Linked DNA regions of Homo sapiens. The protein of the gene in region 1 interacts with the protein of each later gene in a biochemical or structural test. Each region holds a gene or a part of one and is shown on either strand. Other genes may lie near its edges. The genes, in order: MUC13 and GALNT14.

Region 1 (16,517 bases):
TTCCATTGAAAATGTAAGTTTTTTTCAAGGTAGGAAAGAATCCCAGAGATTACGTCCTATTGGTAACTAGTTTTTATTTTCTTTTTCTGTTTTTTTTTTTTTTTTTTTTTTTTTTTTTGGCAGAGTCTCACTTTGTCCTTCAGGCTGAAATGCTGTGGCGCGATCTCGGCTCACTGCAACCTCCACCTCCTGAGTTCAAGTGATTCTCGTGCTTCAGCCTCCCAAGAAACTGGGATTACAGCCATGTGCCACCACATCTGCCCAGTCTTTCTTTCTTTCTTTCTCTTTCTTTCTTTCTTTCTTTCTTTTTCTTTCTTTCTTTCTTTCTTTTTCTTTCTTTCTTTCCTTCTTTCTTTCGTTCTTTCCTTCGTTCTTTCTTTTCCTTTTCCTTTTTTTTTAGATGGCGTTTTGCCATGTTGGCCAGGTTGGTCTCGAACTCCTGGCCTCAAGTGATCCACCTGCCTTGGCCTCCCAAAGTGTTGGGATTACAGGCGTGAGTTACCACGCCCGGCCAATAATTAGTTTTTCAATTCACAAACCCACATATTATGTCACCCTCTAAGAAGCCATTATTGGCAATATGGAGATATTTTTCAAGGCACTGTAAATATTTGCAGGGCAGGTTATTTACGCAGCAGGCATTAGGATGTGATCCCTTCTGGAGAGTTCCATAGACAGTATTGCCCCAGCCTCACCTCTTACCTCTCACCCTCCTTCTAGTGATTTATAGAGACCCTAAAGGATCTTTCTGACGAAGGGAGGTGACTTGAATTCTGCAAACAGTATTAAGACAAATGCAAACACTGACCAAGGCTAAATTGCAAAGGAGAAACCAGGACCTCTGGAGAGGAGTTGCTGTAAAGAAAGGAGCCTCATGAGGGAGTCAGGCCCAGCATCAGGGCAGGAGCTCAGAGGGAAGGGTGGTTTCTGGTCCTGACCTGCATGGCAGCTGCTAACCAGGGTAGTGCTGAGATTGGGATATTTGCCCCTAAAGAAACTCAATCAAGGGCTATTTATTGAGTGCCTACTGTATGCCTACCCCTGCTGGGTATTGTTCTTACTGGGTGAACATCACAATGTTTCAAGGTGAGGTTTTCCTGTTAAACATGCTCCCACCATATCCTGAATGTGTCCTTTATAAAAGTACTCTGCACAGTTCTTGCTGCAGAAATGATGGCTCTAGTTCATTGCTGTATCTCCAGAGCCTAGAACAGTGTCTGTCCCTGATAGTGCTCATGGTACTCTCAAGTATTTGGTGAATGAAGGAAAAACCCTAAATTCAACATATTGTTGCAAGTTTCCTTTGTTATCAACTATAAGCTGAGTTTTAATGGCTACACAAGACCCTTCTCATGAACTCACCAAATTTGTCTTGACCAAGCCACAACTTTTAGACATTTATATAGTTTTACTGGGTGTGGTGGCTCACACTTGTAATCCCAGCACTTTGGGAGGCTGAGGCAAGAGGATCACTTGAGCCCAGGAGTTTGAGACCTGCCTGGGCAACATGGTGAGACCTTATCTCTGAAAAAAAAAAAAACTAAATTTTTTTCTTTGAAAAACAATAATGAGACCGGGTGCGGTGGCTCACGCCTGTAATCCCAACACTTTGAGAGGCCAAGGCGGGCGGATCACCTGAGGTTGGGAGTTCGAGACCAGCCTGACCAACATGGAGAAACCCCGTCTCTACTAAAAATACAAAATCAGCTGGGTGTGGTGGCACATGCCTGTAATCCCAGCTACTCGGGAGGCTGAGGCAGGAGAATTTCTTGAACCCGGGAGGCGGAGGTTGCGGTGAGCTGAGATCACGCCACTGCACTCCAGCCTGGGCAACAAGAGCGAAACTCCATCTCAAAACAAAACAAAAAAACACAAAAAAATACAAAAATAATGATATATTTATACAAATGTATTTGAGCATATGTCTGGCTATTTCCTTGGGATAAATTCCTAGAATGGAATTGCTTGATCAAGAGATAGATCCATTTTAAAGGTCTGTGATACATATTGCTGAATTTCCCTCCTCCAAAGGCTGTTTAAATACCTTCCCTACTGCTGTGTTTGAGGCCTGTTTCCCACACATCATTGCCAACAGCAACCATTGCCATTCTCTTCATCTTTGCCAGTTAAATAACCTCAACATCATGGTATCTAATTGGTTCCCAGGGCTAAAGCAATCTCTAGGAAATTGCTTATGAGTATGTGTCAAAGGCAAATTTGCCATCAAGTAAAAGGTTTCTGAGAAAGTCAAATCAAAGATTTCCTCTGGCAAAGGTGACTTGGAGCAACAACAATAAAATAGAACGTGTAGTTAAAGATTATGGAGATAGTTGTGAGTTGAGTTCAAGCTTTGCATGTCTGTCTAAATGTCATTATGTTCTCCCGGAACTGTCAGCTACACGGAGAGACTTTCCAGGAATGGGTTCCTATTGCATTAAAGTTGATAAGTTTAGCTCTAGCTCTGGCATTGTTCAATTTTCTCTTTTATTAGCATGTTGTGACATTTTTCATGTGGTAGAAAATGTGTATTTCTTTTTTAGTTAACTCACCTGTTTGCTTCTCTGCTCTCACACTTTCGAAGGCCCTCTTCCTTGCCATTCACCCTACGGTGTGCCCTAGCACAGTGTTTTCCAAACCTGTCGGTTTTGTACCTCCCTCATGATTTTTGACAAATCATGTATTATCACTACACTTTCTTACATATTTTTGTTGAAATTGACCTTTTTTAAAAAAATAATTAACTGAATTTTCTTTTTCTTTTTCTTTTTTTTTTTTTGAGACATTGTCTGGCTCTGTCACCTAGGCTGGAGTGCAGTGGCACGATATAGCTCACTGCAGCCTCAGCCTTGAACTCCTGGGTTCAAGCGACCCTACTGCTTCAGACTCCTGAGTAACTGGAACTACAGGCATGTGCCACCATGCTTGGCTAATTTTTATAACCTTTTTTGTAGAGATGGGGGTCTCACCATCTTGCCCAGGCTGGTCTCAAACTCCTGGCCTCAAGTGATCCTCCTGCACTGGTCTTCCAAAGCTCTGGGATTATAGTCATGAGCCAATGTGCCAGGCCAAACTTAATTTTAAAATAAACTTTACAGCTTGGTGTGGTGGTTCACACCTGTAATCTCAGCGCTTTGGGAGGCCAAGATGGAGGATCACTTGAGCCTAGGAGTTTGAGACGAGCTTGGGCAAGATGCTGAGACCCTGTCTCTATGAAAAAAAAAAAAATTTTTTTCTGATTTAGCCAAGCATGGTGGTACATGCCTGTAGTTCCAGCTACTCAGGAGGCTGAGGCGGGAGGCTCACTTGAGCCCAGCAGTTTGAGGCTGCAGTGAGCTGTGACGGTGCCACTGTTCTCCAGCTTGGGTGATAGAGCAAGGCCCTGTCTCCAGAAAATAGATAAATAAATAAAAGCAAATTAACTTTACATCACCACCCCAAATTTAGAAGAAAAAAAAACTAGTTTCCTTTGCCATGGATAGAAAATAGCCATAAGAAACATAAACAAAAATAAAGTGTTATTAGATTACCAGGAGTTTGGTTGCCAAAGGCTCTGTGTCTGGGGCCTGAGCTCTCTTCCTCACAAAGAGAAATATGTAATTATTAGAGAAGAGTTAAAGATATCTTAGCAATACATGAGATTTTCTCATTGTGTAATCAGAATGACTGAAATTTGAAAAGGCATAACTTTCCCCTCCAAGTGAATCACTGTTATCTAACGCTGTGTCCATGGACACTTAAAATCATCTTGTGTGCCACGAAGGCAGTGGTCCTCAGAGCTGAGCACCAGCAGAGTCACACTAAAAATACAAAAATTATCCAGGTGTGGTGGCACATGCCTGTAATCCCAGCTACTCAGGAGGCTGAGGCAGGAGAATCACTTGAACCTGGGAGGCCGAGGTTGCAGTGAGCTGAGATCATGCCATTGCACTCCATCCTGGGCAACAAGAGTGAAACTCCATCTCAAAACAAAACAAACAAACAAACAAACAAACACAGATTGCTGATTCAGTAGGCCTAGGTGGGGCCTGAGAATATGCATTTCTAAAATGTTTCCAGGTCATGCTGGTGCTGCTGGTCTGGGGAACACATTTTTGAGGACTGATGCCCTAGTTGTATCATCTCTCATTTTAGGAATAACTGGACTGGGTAAGGCTGAGAGGTACAAACCCCAAAGAGGGGCAAACCTACTCCCACCCATTGTTTTCAGTTTTCCTCAGAGCAACAAGTCCAGGCCTGGTGCTAGCATCTCTGAGGACAATGTTTTAATCTCTGGAACCACTCGCTTCCTCTCTGAAGAGATCTGAATTACAATTTGTGGCCACCGCAAGAGCTTTCTGATCTCAGTCAAACCTCCCATAGTCTTGATGGGTGAGTAGAGGAGGAAGTGGGTGAGAAATCAAACTCCTTCCTGGGGAAAATCTCTTTATAGAACTTCTCCAAGAGTTTCATTCCAAAAGATAATAAAATGAAATAAAATAACAAAATAAGAAGCCCACAAAATCTCTCATGATGTGAAATTTATTTTTAGAGCTGACTAAACTCAGTGAGGTGAGTAGATAAGCAATTGTGAAATTTTATAAGCCAAGACTCAAAAAGCCAATGCCTGCTCCTTTTGAAGGTCAAGGTGTTTTGGAACACATCTCCAGTGGTTAAACACATGGCTCGGCGCAGCGGCTCTCGTCTGTAATCCCAACACTTTGGGAGGCCAAGGCGGGCAGACTCCTTGAGCTAAGGAGCTCAAGACAAGCCTGGGCAACATAGTAAGACCCCATCTCTATTAAAAATACAAAATTTAGGCAGGCGTGATGGTTGCAACGCCTGTAGTCCCAGCTACTTGGAAGTCTGAGGTGGGAGGATTAGGCGGAGGTTGCAGTGAGCAGAGATTGCACCACTGCACTGCAGCCTGGGCGACAGAGTGAGACCCTGTCTCTCAAAGAAAAAGAAAATCTATACATTCGTACTTGACCCTTTCTCTGAGCCCATTACATCGTGGGTGTAAGAAGTGGAAGTCGCCATGAGAGTGCTCGACCGCCGTCCTGCCACCCAACAAAGCAAGTCATTTTCATGTGTTCGTGTTTCCTGCCAGCGCTTATCTTTATGGAGGCAAATTATGGAGGCATGGTTTTTACATAATTAGAGATATAATGAGAATCCTGCCTCTTCAACTTCTATTGTAGTAGAATAAGCACTTCCCCATAAGCACTTCCCCTCACGGCTGCGGTCTTCTGCATCGTACCGTGTGTGGATAGAGTCCTACCTCTCATCAAGGGTGGTCACCACATTTAAACCTCTGTTGTTGGGTAAGGTTGTTTTCAATTATTTATACTGTATATATGTAATACTGCAGCAAACATATCTGTACATATAATTTTCCCTTCATTTGAAATTATTCCTTGACCAGGCACTGTGGCTCACGCCTGTAATCCCAGCACTTCGGGAAGCCGAGGCAGGAAGATTGCTTGAGGCCAGAGTTCAAGACCCCCGTCTCTACAAAACTTAAAAAAAAGATTTTTTTGAAGAAATTATTTAAGATAAAGTTCCAGAAGTAAATTTCTCAGTCACAGGGTAAAAACTTTTTTGTTTGTTTGTTTGTTTGTTTTTTAAGACAGGGTCTGGCTCTGTCACCCAGGCTACAGTGCAATGGCACAATCACAGCTCACTGCAGCCTCAACCTCCTCCCACCGGCTCATGAGGCTCAAGCAATCCTCCCACCACAGCCTCCTGAGTAGCTGGGACCACAGGCATGCAACACCATGCTCGACTAATTTTTTAATTTTTTGTAGAGATGGTGTCTCACTGTATTGCCCAGGCTGGTCTCAAACTCATGGACTTAAGTGATCCTCCCACACTGGCCTCTCAAAATCATGCCCAGCCAAGAACATTTTTAAATTGCTCTTAATACCTGTTGCCAAATTGTAGCATATTACAACGTAGCAATTGTAAAGCATATTGAATTATTTGCACCCCCACCAGAGTTGGATATATCATTGTACACATTTTTAAAAGATGTAAAATATTACACCAGTGTGGTGGCTCACACCTGTAATCCCAGCACTTTGGGAGGCCGAGGCAGGTGGGTCACTAGAGGTCAGGAGTTCGAGACCAACCTGGCCAATTTGGTGAAACCCATCTCTACTAAAAATACAAAAATTAGCCAGGTGGGGTGGTGTGCACCTGTAATCCCAGCTACTCAGTAGGCTGAGGCAGGAGAATTGCTTGAACCTGGTAGGTGGAGGTTGCAGTGAGCAGAGATCATGCCACTGCACACTAGCCTGGGTGGCACAGTGAGACTCCATCTCAAAAAAAAAAAAATTAAAATAAAAAAAAAGAGGTAAAATATAATCTCACTTTTGTTTTAGTTGTAACATCTTTAAGATGAGTAAAGGCCGGGCACAGTGGCTCACACCTATGATCCCAGCGCTTTGGGAGGCCGAGGCGGGTGGATCACGAGGTCAGGACATTGAGACCATCCTGGCTAACACGGTGAAACCCCATCTCTACTAAAAAATAAAAATAAAAAAATTAGCCAGGTGTGGTGGCGGGCGCCTGTAATCCCAGCTACTCGAGAGGCTGAGGCAGGAGAATGGCATGAACCCAGGAGGCGGAGCTTGCAGTGAGCCGAGATTGCGCCACTGCACTCCAGCCTGGGTGACAAAGCGAGACTCCCTCTCAAAACAAACAAACAAACAAAAAAAGATGAGTAAAAAGCTAAATATTCTTCCCCCACATATTTACTTACTAATAATATTTTCTCTTTTGAATAATTTGATCATGACAACCAACTTTTGGAAGATAAATTGTCTGAATGCACTGTGGGTCTGAAGACCCCAAACTGTGTCTTATTTCTTTGCATTCCCTGTTCCCTGCACCTAGAACAAATCGGACGGCCTTCATTCATTCCTTCCTTTCTTCCATAAATCTTTACTGAGCACCTGCCATGTGCCAGCTGTTCTGGATGCTGGAGACAGAGGAGTGGACAGGGAAGAGAAACTCTCATGGAAGTTAGGCAACAGGTAGCTAAACCAGCAAAGAGACAAAGTAATTACATATTGTGATGAGGGCTATGGAGGAAACGAACTGAGGTGGGATGGTCAGGCGAGTAGACCAGCTCCTTTAGATAAGGCCCCCAAGGAAGATCTGGCCTGTCGTTCTCCTGCTTAAATGTTCCCATGGCTTCTGCCATTGTGCTTAGAATAAAATCCACATTCCTTTCCACAGCCTCTAAGATCCTGTAGGATCAGGCCCCAGCCTGCCTCTCTGACAACATCTCCCCCCAGTCTCCTCCTAAATCATGGTGCTCTTCAAACACACCAGACTTGTTCTGGCCTCAGGCCTTTGCACTTACTACTTTTCTAGCTGGAATGCCCTTTTTCTGATGTTTATATGGCAGGCTTCCCTTCAATAGCAGCTCTCAGTTCCGATATCAGCTCCTGCAAGAAGGTTTTGCTGACCATCCTATTTAAAGTAGCACCTCATACCCCACAAGTCACTATCCCATTGTTGTGTTTTATTTTCTTCAGAGCATTGACCACTCTCTAAAATCATTGTATTTAATTACTTTTTTTGCCGACCTCCACTACCCATGATCTCACAGAAGCTTCAGGAGAGCAGAGACCTTCATCATCTTGTTCACTGCTTCATCTTCGATACCTGATGGATGTGCAGAGATGCCTCGAGTACCTGGGAGTGACTGAACAGCCCCCTCCTGAACATTACTCATGTAAAGCAACCATTCACTGAAAAGTTAATTTCAGAGGGTATAAAAAGCAAGAGTGGAAATGGTTCTGTCAATGTGTCATCAATTAGACATTTGAGTTGGGAATATTGCATTCCACAAGTCATTTCTCTGGGAATGGTCTTCTGAATTAGAGAGGAAAATGCTGATCAGCTTCATGTAGTATCTAAATGTGATATCCGTAAATGGTAGTAGTGACTCTGGGAAGGCTATACTCACACCTCTATTGAGGGGCTGGAATTAGTGAGAAGGAGATAGGAGCTTAACATGTATTTACATTTGGTTCTATAGACAGAAAATAATCTTTGGGTCTAACTATTTAATCTTGATAGAATTTTATGTTTTAATGATCCTCTAGAGCCTTATCATGGTACTGCAGTGTTGCAGAATCAAAGTAGCCAAAGAGGAGCTCTTTTGTTTGAGACAGGGTCTCGCTCTCTCGCCCATGCCGTGGTGCAGCAGTGCAATCTCGGATCACTGCAACCTCCGCCTCCAGGGTTCAAGGGATCCTCCTGCCTCAGCCTCCCAAGTATCTGGTACTACAGGCATGCATTACCATGTTAAGATAATTATTTTAAAATTGTTTTGTAGAGACAAGGTCTCACTATATTGCTTAGGCTGGTCTCAAACTCCTGGGCTCAAGCAACCCTCCCACTTTGGCCTCCCAAAGTGCTGGGATTACAGATGTGAGCCACCTCACCTGGCTAGAGAGGCTCTTGATGGATCAAATTCTAATTCTAAATGGCTCTGATATAGCTCTCTTGAGTTTATGCCTAAATAACTGGATATTGCTTTAGATTAATGGGCATGTCCCATTCCTCTGCATAGTCAATAGAATTATTGAAAAGCTCACCCTGAACAATAGTTCTTTTGCAACCAGGTAATTATGGGTAAACAGCTTTTTTTTTTTAGCTGACTTGGTGACAACGTTACCAACATATAACATTGTTTCTGTGGGAAAATGGAGTCTGTGTTCTTGACTTATAGATAAATACTTAGAATTTAGCCATTTCATACTAATAAATATCAACCCTTTTTCCTATCCAGGTTTTGAGTTCTGTGAGAAGTAAAACACAGAGTACAACAGATGGAGACAAAATATTACTTTTATAGAAGCTTATTTTTGAGAATGTGGCTTAGGGCTCCCTCCTTCTGGATCCTTACCTTCTTGGGCACAACAATCCTGAATCCAGGTTATCTCCCCAAATGGAAACTGCAGGATCTGAGGTGAGTATTCCCAGTTTATTCTGAAATAAGTCACTACTCTTCCTTTAGGGCAAAATGAATAAAGACATGCCAAGAGGCCAGGAGTGTTTCAGGAATTAAACTCCCTCCATTAGTGAGGAAACATCAGCCCTGAGGAAGAAGAAGTTTCCCTCATGAAAGCTCTGTGTATTGTCTCTGTCATCCTGCAGTACTGAAGTCCTGTGTGGATGCTTTAGGAGCGGGCATACCGGTGATTGCTGATTTATACTTTGAGGACTGCCTGACTTTCTGGCTGCCCATATTTTTCCAGATGATAAGGCCAGGGAAGAGTCAGGGAGCCAGATGCTTGGCAGTACTCCATGCCTTCCTGGTTATACTTTTCATTCTATGCTCAGCAGATAAGTAATATAGAAAACCATGGAAATATTGACACTGTTGTAATATGGTGGCATCAGTAGACATTAGTGATAGAGCACTGTGGGCGCTACTCACTTGATATCTTGAATCTAAGACATGATGGGGTGTGATAGGCTTCTCCCAGTTTAGGAGACAGGATTTGAGACCCTGCATTTGAGATCCTGCAGCTACTTATGTGACCCCAGGCCACTTTTTCAATTTTTCTAGATTCCTGGTTAGGCTTTTATAAAGTGAATATAGTAAGTTTAAAATGCCATATAAAAATGACAGAAAAGGAGAAAAGATTTGCAATACATATGTAAAGAACTTTTACCATTAAAAACCAAGAAGAAAACCAATTCAACGATACAATGTGCAAATTATTTGAACAGGTACTTTACAAAAGAAGAGACACGAGTGACTAATATGCACATAAAATGATGTTCAACATCATTTGTCATCAGGAGATGCAAATTAAAACAAAAGTGAGATGCCACTACATACCCTTTAGGGTAGCTAATATAAAGACGGACAATACCAAGTGTTGGCAAGGATAGGGAACAACTGGAATTCTCATATATTGCTGATGTAAAATGGCATAACAACTTAGGAAAACCATTTGACCATTTATTAAAAAGTTATATAGCTACCATGTGATGCAGCCATTCCATTCTAAATATTTACCCTAAAGAAATGAAAGTGTATGTTCATACAAAAACTTGTACATGAATACTTATAACTTTTTTTTTTTTCTCGAGATGAAGTCCCGCTCTGTTGCCCAGGCTGGAGTGCAGTGACGTGATCTTGGCTCACTGCAAATAATACTTCCGGGGTTCAAGGGATTCTCCTGCCTCAACCTCCTGAGTAGCTGGGGTTACAGGTGCCTGCCACCATGCCTGGCTAATTTTTGTATTTTTAGTACAGATGAGGTTTCGCCACATTGGCCAGGCTGATCTCCAGCTCCTGATCTCAGGTGATCCACCTGCCTCAGCTTCCCAAAGTGCTGGGATTACAGGTATGAACCACCACACCTGGCCTTATTTATAATCTTTTTGTTTGTAATAGTCAAAACTAGAAACAACTCAAATGTCCATCGACAGATGAATTACCAAACACGCCATGGTACATTGATACAGTGGAATAGTGTTCAGATATAAGAAGAAACAAACTATGAATTCACACAGCAAGGATGAGTCTCAAAATGGTTATAAGTGAAAGAAACTGGCTCAAAAAACAAAACAAAACAAAAAACTACATCTGTATGATTCCATTTACATAAAATGCTAGAAAATGCAGACTAATTTATAGAGACAGAAAGCAGATCAATGGTTACCTGGGGTTGGGGTGGAGTATAGGGGATGTAGCACTAAAAAGGGACAAGAGGAAAGTCCCAAAGGGTGTGTTGGGAATGCTCGGTATCTTGGTTGCAACGGTAGCTACACATGTATATACATCAATCAAAATTCGTTGAACTGTACACTGTAAATAGATACAGTTTATTGACATAAATTATAGCTCAATAAAGCTAGTTTAAAAAGAAAAGAAAAACAAGCCTTTGTTTAAATCCTGATGCCAGGAGTTATTCAAGCTGAGAATAATAGCATAACATAATGGGCCTTAGAAGTGTCTTTGCTTTGGAAAAAGTGTTTAAATGGACCTCTCAGCCATGTAAGAACAAACCCCTGTCTTATTCTTGAATGGAGACTCTAGGACAATAAGCAGCTTATCTGCTGGGCGATCATACAAAAATGTTTTGTTTTCATCAAGGTCAGGGTTAAAATTTAAACCCAAAGGCCAGGTATGGTGGCACACGCTTGTAATCACAGCACTTTGGGAGGCTGTGGTTGGGGATTGCTTGAGTCTAAGAGTTTGAGACCAGCCTGGACAACATGACAAAACCCCATCTCTTCTGAAAATACAAAAATCAGCCAAGCATTGTGGTGTATGCCTGTAATCCCAGCTACTTGGGTGACTGAGGCAGGAGGATCACTTGAGCCCTGGAGGCAGAGGTTGCAGTGAGCTGAGATCGTGCCACTGCACTTCAGCCTGGGCGACAGAGTGAGACTCTGTCTCAAAAAAAAAAAAAAAAAAAAAAAAAAACTTAAACTCAAAACTCTAGCCACAACTCACAAGGTATCATTAGTTTATATTCCTCTGGCTGGGGCTAGACACAGTAGAGTTGGGGCCCTGGACTTTAAGGAGGGAAAATTAGATTAAGAAGACCCAAATCCAAGCAGTAAAGCTGGTTCCTGACACATGGTGAGAGGTGAGGGGCTGAGGAACTAGAGAGAGGGTGAGAAAGGGAACTGAGAAGTGGGGCCTGCCCAATGAGTGGCCAGGAGCAGAGAGATCAAATCAGCTGTTCTAAGTTTTCTCTTTTCTGTACTTTATTGCCAACTCCCCAACACACCAGTCACCCACAAGACTTCAGTAAAGTTAGGTTAAATGCCATGATGTGATGTCCATTGTGCTTGGGAACTTTATTGGGGGCTGTATCCAGGTAGAGTCACAGAAGCTTGGAGATGTGATTACAAAGTTGCTAGACATGACCATCAGAGAGGCCCGGAATGGTAGTCCCCAGCATACAGTGACAAAAGTTAAGCAACTAATAATTTTGGGAAACATGTAAGTCCTCTTCAGGGATTCTCAGAACTACAGCTGGAGGAAAGTGGTTTCCTGCACTCATATGTGGGTGAGTAGAGCACAGTTTGTTATTGAATGTTTAATGGAATGGTGACCTCCTAAAAGATGGCGGCTTGGAGACATTTGAGATATCAAGAGATTAACCAAACTCATGTGCCACCAACCTCACAAGGATATTTGGAATGTCCTGACTTATTTTGGGCTTTGAGTCAGAAAAATGATTCGTAAGGCCAGCTCCACCTCTTCTATCTCAAAAGCTCGGAAGAGATCTATGGTATTTGGCCAAATGCTAGCTATAATTGCCTTTCTGTGGTTTGACGTCAATTAATGACTGGACTTTGTACCCGAAAGACAGTTAAAACGAAAGGTAGCCAGGAAGGGAAATCATTTCCTCCTCAGATTACCAAGCAAGAACAGCTAAAATGAAAGCCATCATTCATCTTACTCTTCTTGCTCTCCTTTCTGTAAACACAGGTAAGGAATATTTTTACATTTTAATTCTTCCAATCATGTATGTTGTCTTTGAGGTAGAATCAGCAGGCCTATAGCTACCAATTCTCCCAGCCCAGCACATGGTCTATTTTATAAATGAAGTTTCCTCTCCAGCTCAGCTCAAAGACACAGACATTTTATCCTGTGATGGGGAAGATAGAGCAATAGCAAAAGTGGTCTGTGGGCTGGGCGCGGTGGCTCACGCCTGTAATCTCAGCAATATGGGAGGCCGAGGCAGATGGATCACTTGAGGTCAGGAGTTTGAAACCACCCTGGCCAACATGGTGAAACTCCATCTCTACTAAAAATACAAAAAAATTAGCCAGGTGTGGCGGTGGGCACCTGTAGTCTCAGCTACTCAGGAGGCTGAGGCAGAAAGAATCGCTTGAACTCGGGAAGTGGAGGTTGCAGTGAGCTGAGATGACACGGAGTGACAGAGCGAGACTCCATCTTGTAGGGGTGGGGGGAAGAAGTGGTCTATGGAGTGAGATCTGGGGGCTCAGCAAACCAGAGGTTTCTCTTTGAGAGTTCCTGAGGCCAGATAAGAAGGACTAAGTAGGTTGCAAGGACCCAGTTCTCTACTATAGCGTTCTGGATCCCCTCTCATGATAATCAGAGAGCTGACCACAGCAAAAAGCCTCCTTTCACAAATGTACTTGAATTTGAGAATGCTAAACCATAGGGAGTAATTGTCACGTTGATTAGACTTCAGACATGTACTCTCTGTTCTGAGTTAGGAAGGGTTCTATGGGCCACATGTGGGTGAGGTCAGCAGTATGTTGAGAGGTGAGGGTTGTGGAGGCCAATTGGCTTCCTAAAATTTTGCAGAAAAATCACTGGCATGAAGTAGATGGACTAATAGGAAAAAAGGCATACAACTGTATTTAATGTGTGTACCCAGGAACCTTCAGCATGAACACCCAACTTCCTGATGAGGTATAGAAGCTTATACACCATCTTGAGGTTACAGAAAGAAAGGGGGCTTGGATCTTGGTAAAACAAGTTATGGAAGAAGGGAGAAGAGGAATTCTGTTGAGGGGCAATAAATGATTATTAGGGAGAATAATTGGATCTGGGAACAAAAATGAACTTGTAGATAATTCTCCTTGGAATTTAAAGATCCTTGGAGACAGTCCTTATCTTGATGAAGGGTCAGCTCAGGGGTGGTTTCCTTCTCGGTCTTCTTTCCTGTAGTGGATAATGACATAACAGGGAGGGGAACAGGAGCAATAGTTCTTCTTTGGTGGATCAGTCCTTACAGCGCTTGTTGACCTCTAAGAGTTTTTAATTTAAAATACTCATTATATCATGGAGCTATATTTGGGGGTGAAATATTTTTATTTCCTTCAGGTTCAATGAGTTGAAATCTAGAAGCTGCTTGCAGAAAGGAAGAAAGTATTTGATAAGGCAGATGTATGAAGAGAAATTAAGCCCTTTCAGAGAACTGGAATGAATGGCATCAGGATTAGAGTTTTTTGAGAGCTGGTTTCAAGCTCTTAATGCTGGAAGGTTGGAGAAGGCTAGCTGCACAGGAGGGGAGGGCTCACCAGATCTCTCCTGCCAACCTTGGGGGCAGATGCTAGGTCCAAGCCTTCAGGACAAAGGAAGAATTGGTGAGGCTTGTATGACTTTCAGGAGCCACTGTTAAAAAAGGCTTGACTTTTTAAAAATAGAATAGAAGGGCGGTAGAAAGGGGAAAGTTGGCTGGGAGGGGACAAGGAGATGAATAGAGAGTTAAGGGAATCAGGAATCATTGAGGCTCAAGGGACCTTAGGGGAATGGAGATGTTTCTTGACCCAGAGAACCCAGGGGGAAGGGCAAAAGTAGGGCAAGCAGGGATTCAGATGGCATGCCACCACTTATTAGCTGTGGGGTGTCTCTGACCCTCAGTGTCTTCCTGTGTAGCAATAGAGGGGAAATCCCTATACTGAAGAGTGACTGAGAGGATTAAATGAGACAAAGAGCCTGATGTGCCGGGATACTGCCTGGCACATAGGGGCTTAATAAATGATTTCCCTTTTTGTCATGTCTGCACTTGGATCTGATTTTCTTTTCTTTCTTTCTTTTTTTTTTTTTGAGACCGAGTTTCACTCTTGTCGCCCAGGCTGGAGTGCAATGGCACGATCTCTGCTTACTGCAACCTCCGCCTCCCAGGTTCAAGCGATTCTCCTGCCTCAGCCTCCAGACTAGCTGGGATTACAGGCACCTGCCACCACACCTGGCTAATTTTTGTATTTTTAGTAGAGATGGGGTTTCACCATGTTGGCTAGGCTGGTCTCAGACTCTTGACCTCAGGAGATCCACCTGCCTTGGCCTCCCAAAGTGCTGGGATTACAGGCGTGAGCCACCACGCCCAGCCTGGATCTGATTTTCAAACTTTGGTTTTGATTTCCTCTTCTTTGTTTAAAAAAGTTATACAAGTAATGCAGACCCACTGTAACAAATCCAAACAATACAGATGTATATGAAATAAAAATTGAGCATCCAATCTGACTTCCCACCCATCTACCTCCAGATATATTAATACTGACAGTTTTGTGGCTACTAAGGTTTGCTTTTGAAAAAAATATTTATTTTATTATTTATTTATTTATTTTGAGACAGAGTTTTGTTCTTGTTGCCCAGGCTGGAGTGCAATGGCGCCATCTTGGCTCACTGCAACCTCCGCCTGCCAGGTTCAAGCAATTCTCCTGCCTCAGCTTCCCAAGTAGCTGGGATTACAGGTGCTCACTACCACACCTGGCTAATTTTTTTGTATTTTTAGTAGAGACGGGGTTTCACTACATTGGCCAGGCTGTTCTCGAACTCCTGACCTCATGATCCGCCCGCCTTGGCCTCCCAAAGTTCTGGGATTACAGGCGTGAGCCACCGCGCCTGGCCTTATATTACTTTTTGAGATGGAGTTTTGCTCTTGTCGCCCAGGCTGGAGTGCAATGGCACTATCTCAGCTCACTGCAACCTCTGCCTCCCAGGTTCAAGTGATTCTCCTGCCTCAGTTTCCCGAGTGGCTGGGATTATAGGTGCCTGCCACCACGCCCAGCTAATTTTTGCATTTTTGGTAGAGATGGCGTTTCATCATGTTGGCCAGGCTGATCCCAAACTCCTGACCTCAGGTGATCTGCCCGCCTCGGCCTCCCAAACTGCTGGGATTACAGGCATGAGCCACCGCGCCTGGCCTGAAAATTTTTAAAAAGTTGCTTTTTTTTTTTTTTGAGACAGAGTCTCGCTCTGTTGCCAGGCTGGAGTGCAGTTGTCACGATCTTGGCTCGCTGCAACCTCTGCCTCCTGGGTTCAACCAATTCTCCTGTCTCAGCCTCCCAAGTAGTTGGGACTACAGGCGTGTGCCACCATGCCCAGATAATTTTTGTATTTTTAGTAGAGACAGGGTTTCATCATGTTGGCCAGGATGGTCACAATCTCTTGATCTCATGATCCACCCACCTCAGCCTCCCGAAGTGCCGGGATTACAGACATGAGCCACCGCTCCTGGCCTGAAAATTTTTAAAAAGTTGCTTTTTAATGTAACGTTAAGGATTTTGGAGGTGTGTGTAAGGAATCACTACTTCAAACATGAGTTCCATCTCAGATTCTGAGCAACCAAGGGCAGGAAGTGTGTCTTGTACACCTTTACGTTCCTCCTCACCCCTATGCCTTGTATAGCACCTTGACTGCAAGAACCCCCGCACAAGCATTTACTGAAACAAATGAAAAATGTGCCAGTGACATTTGAAGAGCCTTTAACAGGCAAAACTTCCCAGGTTGTTTTTGCTTTCTCTGAGAGACTAGGACTGCATTATTCCACAGAATCTGATGAGTGCCTTTGGGAACCAACATCTCATCATAATGAAGAATTCAGATCTGGGAGAAAGGCGTTTGATTGTGACTTTCAGCTAGCTTTGAATAAAGCAGTTATAGGTGTGCCCTGGACAGGGGTGGTGATTATGGAGTGTTCCCCAGAAAGAAACCAGGTCAGGGCATATATTTTCCCATTGAAACCTATGATTTGTACCTCTGTGGACGTTGTGCTATCCTTGTGTTATTTAGA
Region 2 (16,308 bases), on another chromosome or scaffold:
TAGCTCTGGTCCTCACCCACCAGCCCCTGGGTCTGTGGTGGACCAGTGCTGGGAGATGTAAATGGACCTGGTAAAGGTTTGGGGAAACACTGAACTCTTGTAATACAGGGAGGGCTGGGGAAGCAGGGATCACCTGTGAAATGAAATGGGAGTAGTTAATGGAACTTATCCTTTACATTTAGGAGTTGTTGACTTTGCCAGGGATGTGCTCTTCCATTTTTGCAGTTTTCTTTTAAAGGAGTGAGGAAGAGGAGACCTGGGCTCCTGTATCTCTGTAGGGACTCACTCTTTTCTCTAATGAGCTGCCTTAAGACAGCATGCATCACAGGCAGACGCTCAGCATTCTGCTGTACTTGGCCATAGCAAGTGGTAAGACTTTTGTCAAATTCATGTCTTTCTCACCAATATTCTAATGTTGGGTATTTCCTTTATGACTCAATAAGCCCCTGTATAAATTTGCTACGGGGCCAAATTGAGATGAATGCAGAGTTTTAGTAAAGAAGTCAGAAATGTATTGAATGAAAGAAAGATCCAAATAGAAAGTCTCTTGGAGACCATTGATTTAGTTCTTCACTTGTCAGAAGAAGACATGAAAGTCCAGAGAGGTTTGCTCCAATGCCCCAAATCACATAGGCAGAGTTAGGAGCACAGAGAAAACCAGAATTCCGGTTTCAGACTCCCAGCCTAGTGTTGCTTCCATTACGCCAGTGTTGGAATCCAGCCGCCACTGTTAGCTACCTGGAAAACCTGGGCTGGTCTCAATAACCCTGGAGCCCAGTTTTATCATCACTCTATCTCCCTTAGGGTAGCATCGCTAAGAGCATCCAATAAAATTGTGACTGTTAAGTACCACGTAAATAGCCAAGCAATTTTCAAGTACAAAAAAAAATGAACTTCTTTTCAGTTACTGGAAAGACAAGCATTCTTCATTAGTTAGTCATGTACAGTAGCATTTTGTGAAGCATCACCTAACTGCATGTAAGATTTTAGGAATCTGGCCCTGGAAACTTTGCTGTTTTATTTTTTATTTTTTTCTCTTTTTAAGTTTCTTAAAAATTGGTGTTATATGATAATAGGACATTATTTTACATTCATTTAGGTGTGATAATGGTGCTGTGGTTATGTTGGTAGATGTTATTAATTTGGGGAATGCATGCTGAAGTACTTCTGGGTTGTTTAGGGTTATTATTTAAGTGTTATATATTATGACATCTGTAATTTACCTTTCAGTGGTTCAGCAATTATAAACCCATGCATATGTGGGCACGTACATATATATGGCAAAACATTAACTGTTTTTGAATCTAGGTATATTACATGTGTGGGTGTCGAATATACTATTGTTCTATTTTTCCATATGTTTGAAAATTTTTATAATAAAGTGGCCTGTAAAATAAATTCTTCCAGTGATACTGATTCTCTCTGTTTTGAGAACCACTGATGTAGAGCTATAGAACACGTGACCAGTGACAGTCTGTGAGTGGACTCTCCATGTGACTAATTATGACATGGGATTATCTATGCTCCTGGTTCCAGTTTAAGAAGAAAATAAGAGAAAATCTTTTAAATTTCCTCCTTGATGTCTCATCAGAATTGGAGCCGCTTTTCCTCTGCAATACTGGTAAGGTTCTATTTTCCTTTGCTTTGTTTTGACAGTCTGATTTGTCTGTTGCACTGAAATATTGAAACGGTACGCCATCTTTCCCATTTCCAGGGAGGCCTACAGGTGGAACTGATTGGACTTGAAGGTATTGATTAGATCAGTGGTTCCCAAACTTGGGTGCCTAGAGACATCATCCATAAAATTTCAGCAGGCTTAGGGTGAGGCAGTGGCATGTGACTCTTAGCAATAACAAGAGATAATTCTAATGTATATCTAGGTTTGAGACCCAGTGTTTTAAACTATGATGACAACAAAGTCAAGGTCATGGGTTTGGTTCCCAATTTAAGAGATATTTAGCTTTTCATGGAGAAAAGTTCCATTCCATAGTTACATTCTCTACACCATACTCTGTTCTACCATTTTAAAATACGGGTCCTGGTAGAAAAAAAATGAACCAGGAAAAAGAAAAAGGTTTTAGGAAAAAGAAAAGGAATTAGGGCAATTTACAACAATGACAACAACATATATATATATACATATATGCACAAAGTCATATATGTATGCACAAAATCATATATATATAAAAATATGATTTTTCCTTCTTGTTAGAATTTGGTATATTCTGTTACAGAGGTGGCTGCATATTATTGATGGGTGAAAAGAGGTTTTTATTCGTTGTTCTTTCATTACCAAATGTATCAACTACCTCAGGAATTTTGGATGAAAAGGTAAAAATGTTTTGTCAGCATCAGTGAATCGTGATAAAAATGAGTGATGTTTTTAATGAAAAACACTTGATGAACACTTACCAGGCAAGCATGAAAGGAGAAATTGAACCTCAGGAAACAGAAAAATGAACCCCCACTCACCAAACCATTTTTGTTATTAACACTTTCTGGGGCCTCTAAAAGAAAGGAAATGCTGTAAAGGAAAACAAGAGCAGCTCTCTGGCACGGCCTTGGTTTCTGCAGTAGGAATCAGCAGGATCCTTCACCGGCACACCATAAAGCAGCTTCCCTTGTTCTTATGTAATATGTCTTTGCAGCTTAAACCTTTAATTAACCAGAGATGTCATCAAGAAAAGTTTGCTAAGGAAGAGGATGCCTGGTTTAATTAAAAAGATCTTTAATAGTTATTAAGGAAATCAATTTGGAATTCAGGCCTGAGAGCAGTGATGGGGGAAGAAATCACTGAGAGGAACTTCTCCATCTCTCTGGGTAATGGATTTTAACCCTTTGATCTGATCTGCTTTACAATCCCCAGGGCAGTGGTCCAGGGCATGGAGAGGGATGCTTGTCACTCATCATTTTTAAATCTACATCCCAGATGTAAGAGAGCAGTTCTGCCTTACATGGCAGAAGCCCAACCTTTCTGGAATGCAGTTATCCTGGCAATTGAAAGAAATAGGAAACCTTTATAAATTGAAAATCTCCTACCTCATAAGTATAAGCTATTTTTTTCCCCAAAGAGATGCATTATTTCTCCCTGAGGATTTGCACTTGGACTGTACATCAGGCGTTTTCCCATTACTGCTCCAACTGGCCTTCTTCGGATCAAGCTAGAAAAAGGGATTTGGCTCTTTGGAGCATAAGAGAAATATTATTTTCACTTGTCTCATGAAAATGATGACACAAAAGGTGAAATAGCCAGAGGATGGGCAAAATAAATTGTCTGTGTGGCAAAAACTGTAAAAGGAAAAGAGTTTTTCTTTTAAAAAACAGCATTCTGCCAACAGGGGAATGATATTAATATCATCATCTGACGCAGCCCAGTTGAGTTCAAATGCTGAAAGCACTTCTCAAATAATCTATGTTTAATTAACATTTGCACAGCACTTAGAGAGGGAAACTGAAGACAGGTGCAGTGCAGAGCTGCAAAAACGACTTTCCTGTTGCAATGTAGCTATTTCTCAGGTGGACTGAAGCGCCTCTATCTAGGACTCAACATTACTCAACAGAAACCCAAGAGGAAGGACTAGATCTTTTAACACTCAAGGCTTTATTCAAATCACCAGCTTACATTTTCTAGAAGAGCTGGAACAGGCCTTATTTATTTGTATTCCTCACAGCAAATTGCCCAGAGTCTTGGTCACAGTGTCTTTGTTCATTGTTTTGCTCATTACCTAGAAACTTCTGGGCTTAGCAGCCTCCCCATCCCACCGTAGAAATGCCTCAGCTCCCTGATTCACTTGTCCTGTGAAACCTAGTGAGGGATGTCACTTGGGAGCAATGTTGGGTAATGCAGATATGTTATAGCCCACAGTTTACCAATGAACTCATCTTGCTGTAGGCAGTTCGTGCAATTTCTCTGGGCTCCACTTTTCTCAATCACAAAATGAGGAGTATTGAACTACATTAGAGTCTAAGGCCCCTCCTAATATAATCTGGTGTACTCTTTACCCTTTGTCCTAGCTTGGTAGATCTGTTCCCACATTAGAAGATGGAAACCAGGAAAACTTCAGTACTTATGGAAACACTGGTGGCTGGAGTAGAGGTTGCAAGCTGGCAAGCAGCAGGCTGGATTCAGACTGCAGACCTGTTTATTTAGCCCATCCAATGTTTTGGTGGGCTGGTGGTGGGGGTGATTGAATTAATCGATAACAGTTAAAATCCAGGAGGTTTCACATCGTCATCTGGACTTATGCTTTTGTTGAGGCTGGAAAACTCTGGCAACACTTTACTGGCACTGGCAATGATGAGTTGGAGCTGATTCCTTGCTAGTCCAGTGTGGGCCCCGCTACTCCCTACTGTGTCCTCAATATGAAGGTTGAATAGCAGTTTCATTGTTGTCATTGTGTTTATGCTATTTTTCCCCCAACCCTATCTCATTTCACTCATTCATGTTACTTTCATGGCCCATGTAGGTATGTGGGTGAGAGGAGGAGGTTGTTGGAAGAATGATTGGAGTCTGGTGTCAGGAATCCCTTGCCCTTCAAAGAGACAGTGTGCTGCTATCTGGCTGCTTCCATGAGCTGCAAAGTGGGTAAAACATCTTCAGTTGGGTGGATAGGATAAGACTGTCATTGACTGATATGCGCAACCTAATTACTTCCTTAGTTACTTAAAGCTGGCTTCATTTGTCCAAATTGTCTCTTCTTTGGATAAGCATCTTGACTATTGTTTACTTAGAATAATGCCCCACATGAACAGAGTATCCCAAGTTCAGCACACATACAAAACAACTTAAATAGCAAACCCACATTTTTACTCATCTAAGAAAAGCAATCTTCCTTCTAGAACCATCACCAGAAGTCCTCCTGTTGATTAGAGTGGCCTCTAATTTATTGTCTAAAATAGAAATTTCTTGAAAGTAAAATGAGGCAGTATAATAATTATGCCAGAAAAATCAGAATAAACCAGGAATTTCCCAAGCAAACTGGGGCATAAAGCCACCCTGCTCAATGTGCAATATCTGGTAGTGACTTGATGACAAAATCTGCTGTCGGTCACTAGAGATTATACTGGATTGTCCCAGGTCCACTCCTGGGGTATGCTTGGCTCCTCTTGCTGCTGAAGTCCTAGCCAGACTGGAGAGGCCCCATCACAGTTCTATTCCTTCTTGGATTTGAGCTCTCCTGCCCACTTCTACCTTTCACTGATGCCTCTAAGCTTAAGCCTAACAGGAAAGACTGTCTTTGTCAGAGATAATGCAAGTGGCTCTCAGATTTGGTTGTCTGAAATTGGGGACCTGGGGAGTGACATCTGTCCTTAGATCCTTCTATTTCTTCTGCCTGTGCTGCCCTCTGTCAGAGTCTCCTCTAGATAATTCAAGGGAAATAATTTTCTTTTTCTTTCTTTTCTATTTTTTTTTTTTTTTGATGATGGAGTTTTGCTCTTGTTGCACAGGCTGGAGTGCAATGGCGTGATTTCAGCTCACTGCAACCTCCGCTTCCCGGATTCAAGCCATCCTCCTGCCACAGCCTCCCGAGTAGCTGGATTACAGGTGCCTGCCACCATGCCCGGCTAATTTTGGTATTTTTTAAAAGAGACGGGGTTTCGCCATGTTGGTCAGGCTGGTCTCAAACTCCTGACCTCAAGTGATCTGCCCGCCTCGGCCTCCCAAAGTGCTGGGATTACAGGCGTGAGCCACTGTGCAGGTCTCTTTTACTTTTCTTTAGGCAAACTGGGTCACACCTTCATGCTAGAACTTTGCATATTCTATAGGGGCTGGGGGGGGGGTGGGGGAAATTTCTCAGATCACCACAGGGCACCATCACTGAAGATCAAACCACTTTACACAACCAGCAAAGACATATCATTGTAGCAGTATTAAGTTTTACACTTGGCATTTGGGTGAGAAACAAAGAAAGTTTGGGGCATTTCAAACAATAAAAGAAGCAGGCTTTTGAAATGCAAAGATATAGATCCCTTTCAAGGAATCGAATATAAGAATAAAAGGAGGGAGAGGAGTTGAGGGTAGTGGGCTGGTGAAAGGAGTTGTTTAATGGAAAGAGAAAGATCCAGAAAGGTGACTGTCAGATCCCTTAGATAAAGCCACCCATCTACCCGTCAAAGATGAGAGGAAAATCCAGCTGGCTTTATTCTTTTGACAAAGATTCACTGATGTGGCAGAAAGATGAGGTAAGGGGTTGGTAATAGCTCATCCTCATTCACCACGTGGTTTAAACTATTCCATCACTCACTCTATAAGAAAGCCTTGCAGGAAACCCAGGACATGCGGTTTTGACAGGATCTATAGTGGCAAGGAAAATGGAGAGGAACACAGAGGAAAGGGGAGCTGATGTATTATTTACAGTGGAGAACTTGAACAGAGTCAACTGCAGGAGTCAGCCCAAAGACTTGTATCTGTATGACTGTGGAATAAAGACAGACAGATCTTTGAATTTTCACTGCCGCTCTTTTTGCTGCTGGGCCAGCATGTGTGCGACTCATCTTCTCACTGTGCTGCAATCTGCCCTGCTACTGCTTACCTTTCCCTATGGCCCAGAAGAGGTAAAGACCTCAACAGAAACCTGTCTGGGCCTCTGTGGGTGAAATTTCGTTAGGTTGGCACAGAGGGTGTCTCGCTGATTGTGACAGGTCTAATAAGCGTGCAGATGGCAAGAAGCACACACACAGCCACTCGCGCACACACAGCCTCCCTGAAGTCATGCAGTGGGCAGAGAGGAGGGACTCAGAGAATCTGATCCAAAAGGAACAAAGGCTGCAGCCTCTGCAGTGGGCTGAGCGAGAATGATGGGGAGACGGCTACAGGAAACGAGAAGCGAAGTGTGAGAATCCACAGCAAAAGCCGCCACAGAGCATATGCATCGGACTTCACAGCTTCCTCCTGCTTCCAGCTTGCATTTGCTCCATATGCTGCTTTACACTGCTTTCCGGGCCATAATGGGTTTCATTCCATAGTTTTTATACTAACATGAATGACTCACATCTGCTCCAGTACCCAATTTGCTCTCTAATGTCTTCGGCTGTGAGGAGAGAACAGCTTACACAGAACTCGCCAACAACAGGAGTGGTAAAGAAGGTCCTGATCCAGGACAAGAAAGGTCAGAACCCTAAATGCGTCAGCTGGGAGGGTCTTTGAGAGAACATGACATTGCCGATGGGAAACCACAGACCCAGAGGAATGAGGAGCTTGGCTCAACAATATCAAGACTGAGGAGGTAGATCTGTTTTAGGAGATCCAGGAGAACCAGGAGAGTCCTAGTTCAGAGTGTATTTATTTTTTTTCATTTCCTGCCATGTTAAGTCTTTTGCTAGGAGCTTTTCCTCCCCATATTGGCTGTGATAAGAAAAAAGTAACTTGGATTAATCGCCAATGATAGCTAATCCCCCGCTGGGATCAACCATACTCTGCATTACTTAAGCTTGTTATTTTATTTATTCATTTTTTGAGACAGGGTCTCGCTCCATCACCCAGGCTGGAGTGCAGTGGTGAGATCATAGCTCGCTGCAGCCTCAAAATCCTGGGCTCAAGTAATCCTCCTGTCTTAGCCTCCCAATTGGCTGGGACTAGAGACACCTGCCACTTCGCCTGGCTATTTTGTTGTTGTTGTTGTTGTTTAGAGACAAGCTCTCGCTATGTTGCCCAGGCTTAAAGCTGGTTATTAAAGCGTTTCAAATATATTCCTGAGCATGGGGGACCCCTGGATAGACTGGGTTCCTGGAGAGACCTACAGAACTAGGCCCCGCATGGACACTCACTTCACTTCCAGATGTTTGAAGTCCCACTTGAAATCTACTTCAGTCCTAATGATATTTACTGGTTTGACAACCCAAACTGATATCTGATATGATCTCTGGATGGATCAGCTAATGACACCTAGCAAAACTGGATTCCCTTGACAGCTTCCATAGGCCCAGGAAATCTTCCTCACTTGAGTAGAGGACAAAATAATGATTTGAGAAGAAAATCATTCCTGGAAGGAAATTCCCACTCTCTGAGACATTGCAGTCCCTGCACGGAGCTGCCTTCACCCCAGGGCCTCAGTTTCCCCATATGCCAAACAGTCAGAATGAGGCACCTCAGCATCTCAGCAGTGTGGTGAGCAGCGTGGTGGTGCTGCACCATCTCAAAAGCTTGGCGGTGTTCTTGTGTAACTGTCTGCCATCTGTTACTCAGAAGCGGCATTACAAAGCGCTGAGCAATGGACTCCTGTGCTGCAGCTTCTGCCTGGAGCCAACAGCAGCTCAGCAGCTTGCCTGGGGGTCCCCTGCAGAGCCTGCAGCAGAACGCTTTGCAGGCCCGAAACTGCAGGTCCCGGGTGAGGCTCCTGAAAGAGGTCCAAGGTGCTTGGGATGCTGCAGAGGTGAGTTCTCTTGCTGCTCCCCCTACCCCTCCCATGATGATCATCTACCTGGGCCTTTGCTGGGACAAAGCATTGGCTGGGGAGCCTACTCCCACCTTTCAGTGTTCAGAGTTCTGATAAAGGCAAATGCTAGATCAACCCTGGGGTTCTGTGTGATGGTCTAAGAGCGCAGGTAGATCTTGAAAGGGCTGGCAACAGTGCTCACCTTTTCTGGGCTGTTTAATTTCAACTGCGGTTCCCAACCCCAAACATCTTATCTACAGTCCAGTCAAGAACTCTCTGAGGTTGAGGCAGGACTTCCCTGTGGCTGAAAGATAAGGTACCAAAAACAGGAGGCTTTGAGTAGACGCCTCCATTTCTCAGTACATGTCTTTGGGGAGACATCTTATTGAAGAAGGAATTCCAGAGCCCTGATTTACAGCTGTCTCACCTGTGCGGAGGTATGGGAGCTTGCCCTACACTGAGCTTTATGGGGAGAGAGGGGCAGGGAGAATGGTGGCTGCCACAGTGGGTGCATCGTTCTCACCTCCCCAAGAAACTCGATGAAGCAAGCAACCCTCCAACAAAAATGGCATGGTTCCCGCTGCCTCTGCTCCCCAGACAGAGCAAGGTTTCCCCACTTTGAGTGGTCAGATAACACCAGCACCTTGCATTCAGCTTTCACCACTACTCATTTGCTTGTCAGAGGAGGTATTTTCCCTCCATTTTACAGATGAGGAATCGAAGACTGGGAGAAGGTAAATGACTTACCCAAGACTCACACAGTGAGTGTGACAGCTAGGTCAGTACTCTCTGGTCAGTGATCTGGCCGTGATTCCAGCCTACTTGAGCCTACATGGGAATTGGAGTTAGAATTTGCTTTGCTTCTAGATCCAAGCGGTTTTAATCTGCAAGTGGGAGGGGGATACAATTCCCAAAGGCCCTTGGGAAAAGGGGCTTTTGAAAGATCACCCTCTGCACCCAGTATCCTCCTGCCCAGGGTCACTTTCCAAGAATCCCAAGTGGTTGTTCCAACTTTGGACCTCTTTTCTTGCAAGCACAAAGCCCTGATGCTTACAGGGAGAGAAAACCTTTATGGGAGATAATTGCGCCTTAATTTTTTAAAGGATATCTTTAAAGTTAAAATTAGACCAGCTCAGCTTTCCTTCCGTTAAGCAGAAAAAGTTACCAGGCACCTGCAGGCAGGCATAGAAACACCCTGGGGAGTTGGCTGACCGCGGCCTTGGCCCTCAGTAGCCAGGCAAGTGAACCGCGGGTTTGGGGCAGCAGCCCTGCCGGCGCCCTGGAATCCCAGCCTTGGCTGTGGTAGGACGAGCACATTGGGGGTGGGACCCCGGCTTCAGCGCCACGTGCAGCCCCCGCGATGAGCGGGAAAGTCCTCCCAGGCACAGCGCCGCCTGGCGAGGGCCGGCCCTTGGGTCCCAGCTGGCAGCTGGGGGTGGCGGGCATCCCGAGTGCACCGCTCCCGCCCCGCCCCGCCTTGCCCCAACCCACGATGGTCTGGGAGCTGCGCCCAGGGCTTGGCGCTGGCGGCCCCGCAACAGCACCGAGCGTTTCGGTCGGCGGGCGGCGGTAGCGCCCCCTCTCAGAGCCCCGCTCACTCCCACCTGGGCTCGCTCCGAGTCGGCCTGTCTGTCGGGCCCGCCCTCCCCGCTCACTCCCTCCGCCCTCGTGCTCCTCCCGGGGTGCTTGGCACAGCCTCGGATTCCTCCCTCTCGCTGCTCGAGTCAGTTTCCCTATCGGCGGCAGCGGGCAAGGCGGCGGCGGCGGCGGCGGCAGCCGCGGTGGCGGCGTGGGGAACATCTCGGCAGCCACCGCGCTTCTCCCGCTGGAGCGGGCGTCCAGCTTGGCTGCCCTCGGTCCTTCCCTGCCACGTTTCGGGTCGCCCTGCACCCCCCACCCAGGCTCGCTTCTCTTCGAAGCGGGAAGGGCGCCTTGCAGGATCCTGCCGCCCCTCCAACCGGATCCTGGGTCTAGAGCTCCCCAGAGCGAGGCGCTCGCCAGGACTCCTGCCCCGCCAACCCTGACCGCCGGGGGGTGCCCCCGGGACGTAGCGCCGCGGAGAGGAAGCGGCAAAGGGGACCATGCGGCGCCTGACTCGTCGGCTGGTTCTGCCAGTCTTCGGGGTGCTCTGGATCACGGTGCTGCTGTTCTTCTGGGTAACCAAGAGGAAGTTGGAGGTGCCGACGGGACCTGAAGTGCAGACCCCTAAGGTAGGCGGCTTGCCGGCGCGCTGGCGCTGAGCGGTGGCTTGCGGGAGGGCGCGCAGCCCGCGTGCCGGGTTTGCGGGCTCCCGGGAAACCAGGGCGAGGGTCTGGGTGCTGCGAGCAGGTAACAGCCGCCGGATGTGGCTACCATGTGATGTTTCTGGATTTTAAAACGCTCGGGGGCATCTCCGGACCCGCGGTGTGCATGAGTGGCAGTGGGTGTGGGTGGTGGGCGCGCGCTCGCCTGCGGAGCGGGGCTCCCAACTTGAGCTGCGCGCGAGGGTCCCGGGGCGGAGGGGGCTCTGCGGACGGGCGGCCCAGGGGCTGGCGGTCTCCGGGCGCTGCCAGAGAGTCGCCGGCGGTCGGGTCGGGCCAGCGCCCGGGCGAAGTGTGGCGGCTGCGCTGACCTCCTTCCCGCAGCTGCCAGGCCCGACCTGGGGAGGCCGGAGGCCGGGTGCGCCGCGCGCGCCTGTGCGTTGCGGGCGAGCGCCTTGCAGCCTCCCGGGCGGCTGCCACCCCTGTTCTCTAACTGTTCCCGACCCTCTCAGCTGCATTGGAAGTTGAATGTGCCCAGAACACCACGAAAGAGCCTGTAAAAACAGACGCCTTGGTATTGGCGGGGAGTTGAGGAAATGGGAATCCAAGTGGCTTTTCCAACTCCTGCTCAGTCAGTTCCTGTGAGGGAGCCAGAAGGTTCCCCCTATAGGCTCACTCTTACCTTCAGATTCAGAGCCCTGTAGGGGGAAAGGGAAAACTTCCCCATGGCTCTCCGAAGGTTCACTGAAAATCAGTTGACAAAAGGCAGATCAATAGGAGAAAAGGCATAATAATTTATTTGATCATAGTTTTTCGTGACATGGTAGCCTTCCGTTTTCTCTTCACAGATTTGGCCCGGGGACACGGAAGGAGGCCTCTGGGGGATTTCCTGGCCAGCCAGGCAGTCTTTATAAACTGGGTCCAGAACAGTCGTCTAGGGGTCTGGGCAAAAGCCTTGGAGGAGCTTATGGTCGGAAATGGGAGACTGAAAAACAGGAAGATGTGGGCGGGAGGTGGCGTCTCACCAGTTAAGTACAGTACAGAGGGCCTACTGTGTGCCAGGTGCATAGTAGGTGCCTTCCTCATAAGTAGTTGTAGGAGTTGGGTGGTAATATGCTTGTTTCATAGATCAGGAAAACAGGTTCAGGGTCTTTAAGTCACGTACCTTAAGTCGTTCTACTGGTTTGAACTCCAGCCTCCACGCTCAGGGTTTCCAGTATATCAAGTTGCCTCTCGGTTTCCCCTTTTTAACCAAGTCTTCTAGCACTTATGTTCTGGAATCTTGCCAATGCTTTGTCGATTTCAACAAGCATTTATTTAGCACCTATTGTGTGCTCAGGCAGTGTGTTAGGTGCTATGGGTAGAGAGAGATAGAATTTACTCTCTGGGGGGAGAGGAGTTCACTCATCATTGGACCAGGATGTGAGGTGTGCATAGGGCTAAGAGGGTTCAGTGCACTGGGTGTCATGGGAGCCTGAGGTCTCCCTGGAGGAGGAGGACATAACAGAGCTGAGCTGAGAAGGATAAACAGGTTTGTCAGTAGGTAGAAAGGGCATTCCAGGTAGAGGTTAACTGCATGAAACAGGCTCAGAGGAATGACACAGCACGTTGTGTGAGTTTGGCATAATTTGAGCACAAAGTATGTGGAGGTTGGAGGGATAAAGTTTAGGGAGGTGTGTAGGGGCTGGGTGGGGTAGAATCTTGTGGGTGTGAGGACTCTTGGAGAGGGTCAGGCAGTGAGGTGGCGAGGCCAGATTGATGACTTCAAACCACCTTTAATAGCACCAGATCACTTTTCTCACTCAGCCCCTGCCCATAGATCTGGAGAGCTTTTCTTCTTTTTCCCTAGGTGGTTCTGCTCCCTGTGATGTAGTTAATGATACCTGCAGGGACATGAACTTTCTCTGTTTTGCTTCGACCCTCATTACCTTAAGCTTGCTTATTCTTAGTTTACACCAGGGATCTGGGACAAGAGACCTGTTTCTTTCTTTGTGCACTCTTTGTCCCTCCTCCTCTCCTGCCTCTTCTTATCCTGGCGTGTGCTCAGCACACATCTATCACAGGCAGCTGTATGCCAGGCTCTGTGCTGGGTTTGGGGGCTGCTATGATGAGCACGCTGTGTCCCTGTCCTTTGGCATGGGGGTGGGGGGCCACATAAGTTGCAGGATGAGGCAGAATTACCAACAAATGAGTGGTACTTTAAGGTGGGGAGTGGTTTAGTAGCAGAAGTCAGGACATTGTACTGTGCAGTCACAAAAGAGGAGGTTTTCTAGTTTTGAACCAGTTGCTCTTTGTCTTAACATCTTGTTCCTTCTTTTCCTCATTTTCTGTATCCTTCTAGAACCATGAATTTTTATAGACTTAGAAAATCTTGACACCTCTTACTATTAGGTGTCTTCTTTTTTTTTTGTTAGTATTTTTCTTCTTCCTGTTTTTCCCTTGTATGTATGTCGCTCTGTATCTTAGTGTGTATGTACCTGAGAAGAGAGGAAGAAAGACAGAGACTCCTTAGGTAACGCCAGAACAGTTTTATTCCCTGTGACTTTGTATGACAAGTCCAAATTTATATGACATGTCCAAAGGAGCACAGTGGTACCGAAACCTGGCTGCATGTCAGAATCACCTGGTGAGCTCCATTAACATGCAGATTTTTGGGCTTACTACAGAGATTATGCCTCTGTGAGTTTGGGAGAAGGTTCTAGAATTACTGTTTTTACCAGGGTTGCATGTGATTCTGAAGCAGCCTATTGATGGGTGGCATTTGGGAGCTAGATGAAGAATACCAAGTCTGTTGATCGTGGTTTGGTTGGCTGCATGTAAATATGGTCAAATGATTTTCTTCTTGAGTGTGCTTATGGACCTAACCCATGTAAGCCTATGCATGCATGTTAAATAACAGCCACCAGCATTTCTATAGGGCTTTACAAATTCACAGACTCCATTTACATATATTAGTTCATTTAATACTCACAACTGCACAAGGGAGACAAGATAGTACTTTTATGCAGATGACATTAAGGAGGTGAAAAATTTGGCCCAAGCTAACCAAGCTGTCCAAGTGGCAGCATCAGGACAAGAATGGAATGGGATCCCTCCTGAAACTGCCCACTGCTTGCTTTTTCCATGCCGTTAAACCCAGAGACTGCCTGAATTGACAGCAGGAATTCCCCACCCGCTTCCCAGAGCTCCCTTGGCTCATCCCTAGATCCTCACCCTTGGAGAGCTCCCAGGGGGTTTGTGTAAGGGAGGTGCTAAGGCAGGAGCTACTGCGGAGGGACATCACCCCTGCCCTTGGAAGGCACCATGTGGGGCACAGGAGGCTCCCCTCACTGGATGGAGCACACCCTGATGAGGAGAGTCCCTGTGTTGGGTGGTTGCAGAGGCGTTGGTTTAGGAGGCCATTTGCCAGGGCAGAGATTGTTTCTTCAACAGTAGGAATTCGGATGGGACTTCCATCTATCATAGGGAAAAAAGTTGGTTTTTGAGTGAGTTCCGTGCTGTAGGTTTTCCTAGCGTGTAATCATGGGGACAGCTCTTTGCCTTGGACATGCTGAAGCCTTGGAGAGGTTTTCTTCCTGCTCAGGCCTCTAGGCATCTTCCCAGCATGGGTGAGGGAGTCAGCTTTTCTTCCAAAGCAAGAGGAGTGGGCTCCCTTCCTTTGAATGTATTCAGAGAAGTTGGGAAAGGTGTAGAGATTGGAGAGAGCTGTATTAAGGGCTCCTGGTCTGGGGAACTACCCGACCCTTAGATTCTGTGGAGCAGATTGCCTTCGGAGAGGCAGGTTCTGGTTCTGGGCCATCAGGCCCTTGTTCTCTTTTCCTCGTGGTCTTAGGAAATGTCTCCACTCACCTAGTGACAGGATCTCCAAAGAGGGCGGGATGAAATGAAATCTCTGGTCGCTGGGCCCCAGTGCAAGTGAAGTGAAGAAGGCATGCTACACTCCTGGCTTAAGGAAATTTATTAGACTTTTTTCTTAGTTTCAAGAAGGGCTGATTCTTTCTATTAATAGCTCAAGTAAAGAGTTCTTTAAATTTGACTTTTTAACGTTAATTTCATTCTTTTACTGCCTCCCCCCCAATTATCCAGCAAAGCTCTAATTTCTAACTGAAAAATCCTGTAACAAATTGAGTGTTTTAATTCAGACTGTATTTGAATGGTAAATACTATGCCACTTAAAAGTAGCTGAAAAATGTTTTAATTTCTTCTCTCCCTATCATTTGTTTGCCATTTGGAGAATCATACAATAACTGACTAAAATTTTAAAAATATCAGCAAATTTGTCTCTTATTTCTAAGAAACTAAATATAGTCCAGGTGTTTAGGGCTTAGTAAAAGCAAAAGAATTGTAGGCCTGAGGGTAATTTTCAAGGAAGGTATTGGAAATGTAAAGGCTTTGAATAAAATGCCTCTGGCCCATGTAAGTGTATTGGTGCTGTACTAGAAATACAACAAACACCATTAGAAAATAGCTTGTCTTTCTGTAACATTTGCATCCCACCAATGCCTTAAGTATATGACACTGTTATTTTATTCCTCATTTAGTAGATAATTTCTCTCATTAAAAAAAGTCATAAATTTTAGAGAGAGACCCTATTAATCTACTCATACTTGGTATGTGCATATTGGACTCTGTCCAGGGAATTTTGTAACTGTCCAACGGGTTCTTGTTGCCCGCTTCCTAGACAGAGCCAATGTATCAAGACAGGGGAATTGCAATAAAGAGTTTAATACACGCGGAGTGGCTGAATGGAAGACTGGAGTTTTATTATTACTCAAATCAGTCTCCCCGAAAATTCAGAGACTGGGTTTTTTTTTAAGGATAATCTGGCGGGTAGGGGGCCAGGGAGTGGGAAGTATTGATTGGTAGGGTTGGAGATGAGATCATGGGGAGTCAAAGCTGTCCTCTTCCTCTGAGTCAGTTCCTGGGTGGGGGCCACAAGACCAGATGGGCCAGTTTATCGATCTGGGTGGCGCTAGCTGATCCACCCAGTGTAGGATCTGAAAAATATCTCAAGCACCAATCTTAGGTTTCACAGTAGTGATGTTATCCCTAGGAGCAACTGGGGAGGTTTAGAATTTTGTGGCCTCCAGCTGCATGACTCCTAAACCATCATTTTTAATCTTATGGCTAATTCGTTAGTCCTACAAAGGCAGTCTGGCCCCCAGGCAAGATGGGGGTTTCTTTTGGCAAACGGCTGTTTTCATTTTTGTTTCAGGGTTCTTCCCAAAGTTAGTGCAGCCTACACCCAGGATTGAACAAAGACAGCTTGGAAGTTAGAAGCAAGATGGAGTCTGTTAGGTCAGTTCTCTTTCACTGTCAATTTTCTCATTGTTGTAATTTTTGCAAAGGCAATTTCAGTGTGACTCTGGCATGACCAGAAGTAGCCCATGATGAGATGCATGCTCATCCTTTCAGTTGCTGTGTGGGTGCCTGTACAAGGTGCTGTGCTTTCTTTCCATTCTAAGGCAGTTCCCAGGAGCAGGTGTCTGGGTGGTGGTACACAGCTGGCTCCTGCAGAGGCTCTTGTGAGTGACTGAGAAATATGCAAATGGCAGGTTGGGATCCCAGGTAGTCAAGAAATCATATGTGGTCACTTCTTAGATGTCAAGAAGCTTTTTCTAAAACAAAAACAAAAACAAAACCACTGAGCCTCTATCCCATGGGTATGGTGAGAAATTCACCGTGGGTCATTT

The links.
Region 2: of the proteins of MUC13 (region 1) and GALNT14, one has a biochemical effect on the other in vitro, tested with the Homo sapiens proteins (one study listed by BioGRID).

Annotation. Positions count from the first base shown.
Region 1 is NC_000003.12:124,930,598-124,947,114, reverse strand, and holds the start of MUC13 (mucin-13 precursor), read left to right. Parts: upstream 1-12,363; 5' UTR 12,364-12,402; coding exon 12,403-12,454; intron 12,455-16,517. UniProt on the Homo sapiens protein: Epithelial and hemopoietic transmembrane mucin that may play a role in cell signaling.
Region 2 is NC_000002.12:31,132,235-31,148,542, reverse strand, and holds the start of GALNT14 (polypeptide N-acetylgalactosaminyltransferase 14), read left to right. Parts: upstream 1-10,102; 5' UTR 10,103-10,456; coding exon 10,457-10,585; intron 10,586-15,896; exon of another isoform or gene 15,897-15,913; intron 15,914-16,308. UniProt on the Homo sapiens protein: Catalyzes the initial reaction in O-linked oligosaccharide biosynthesis, the transfer of an N-acetyl-D-galactosamine residue to a serine or threonine residue on the protein receptor.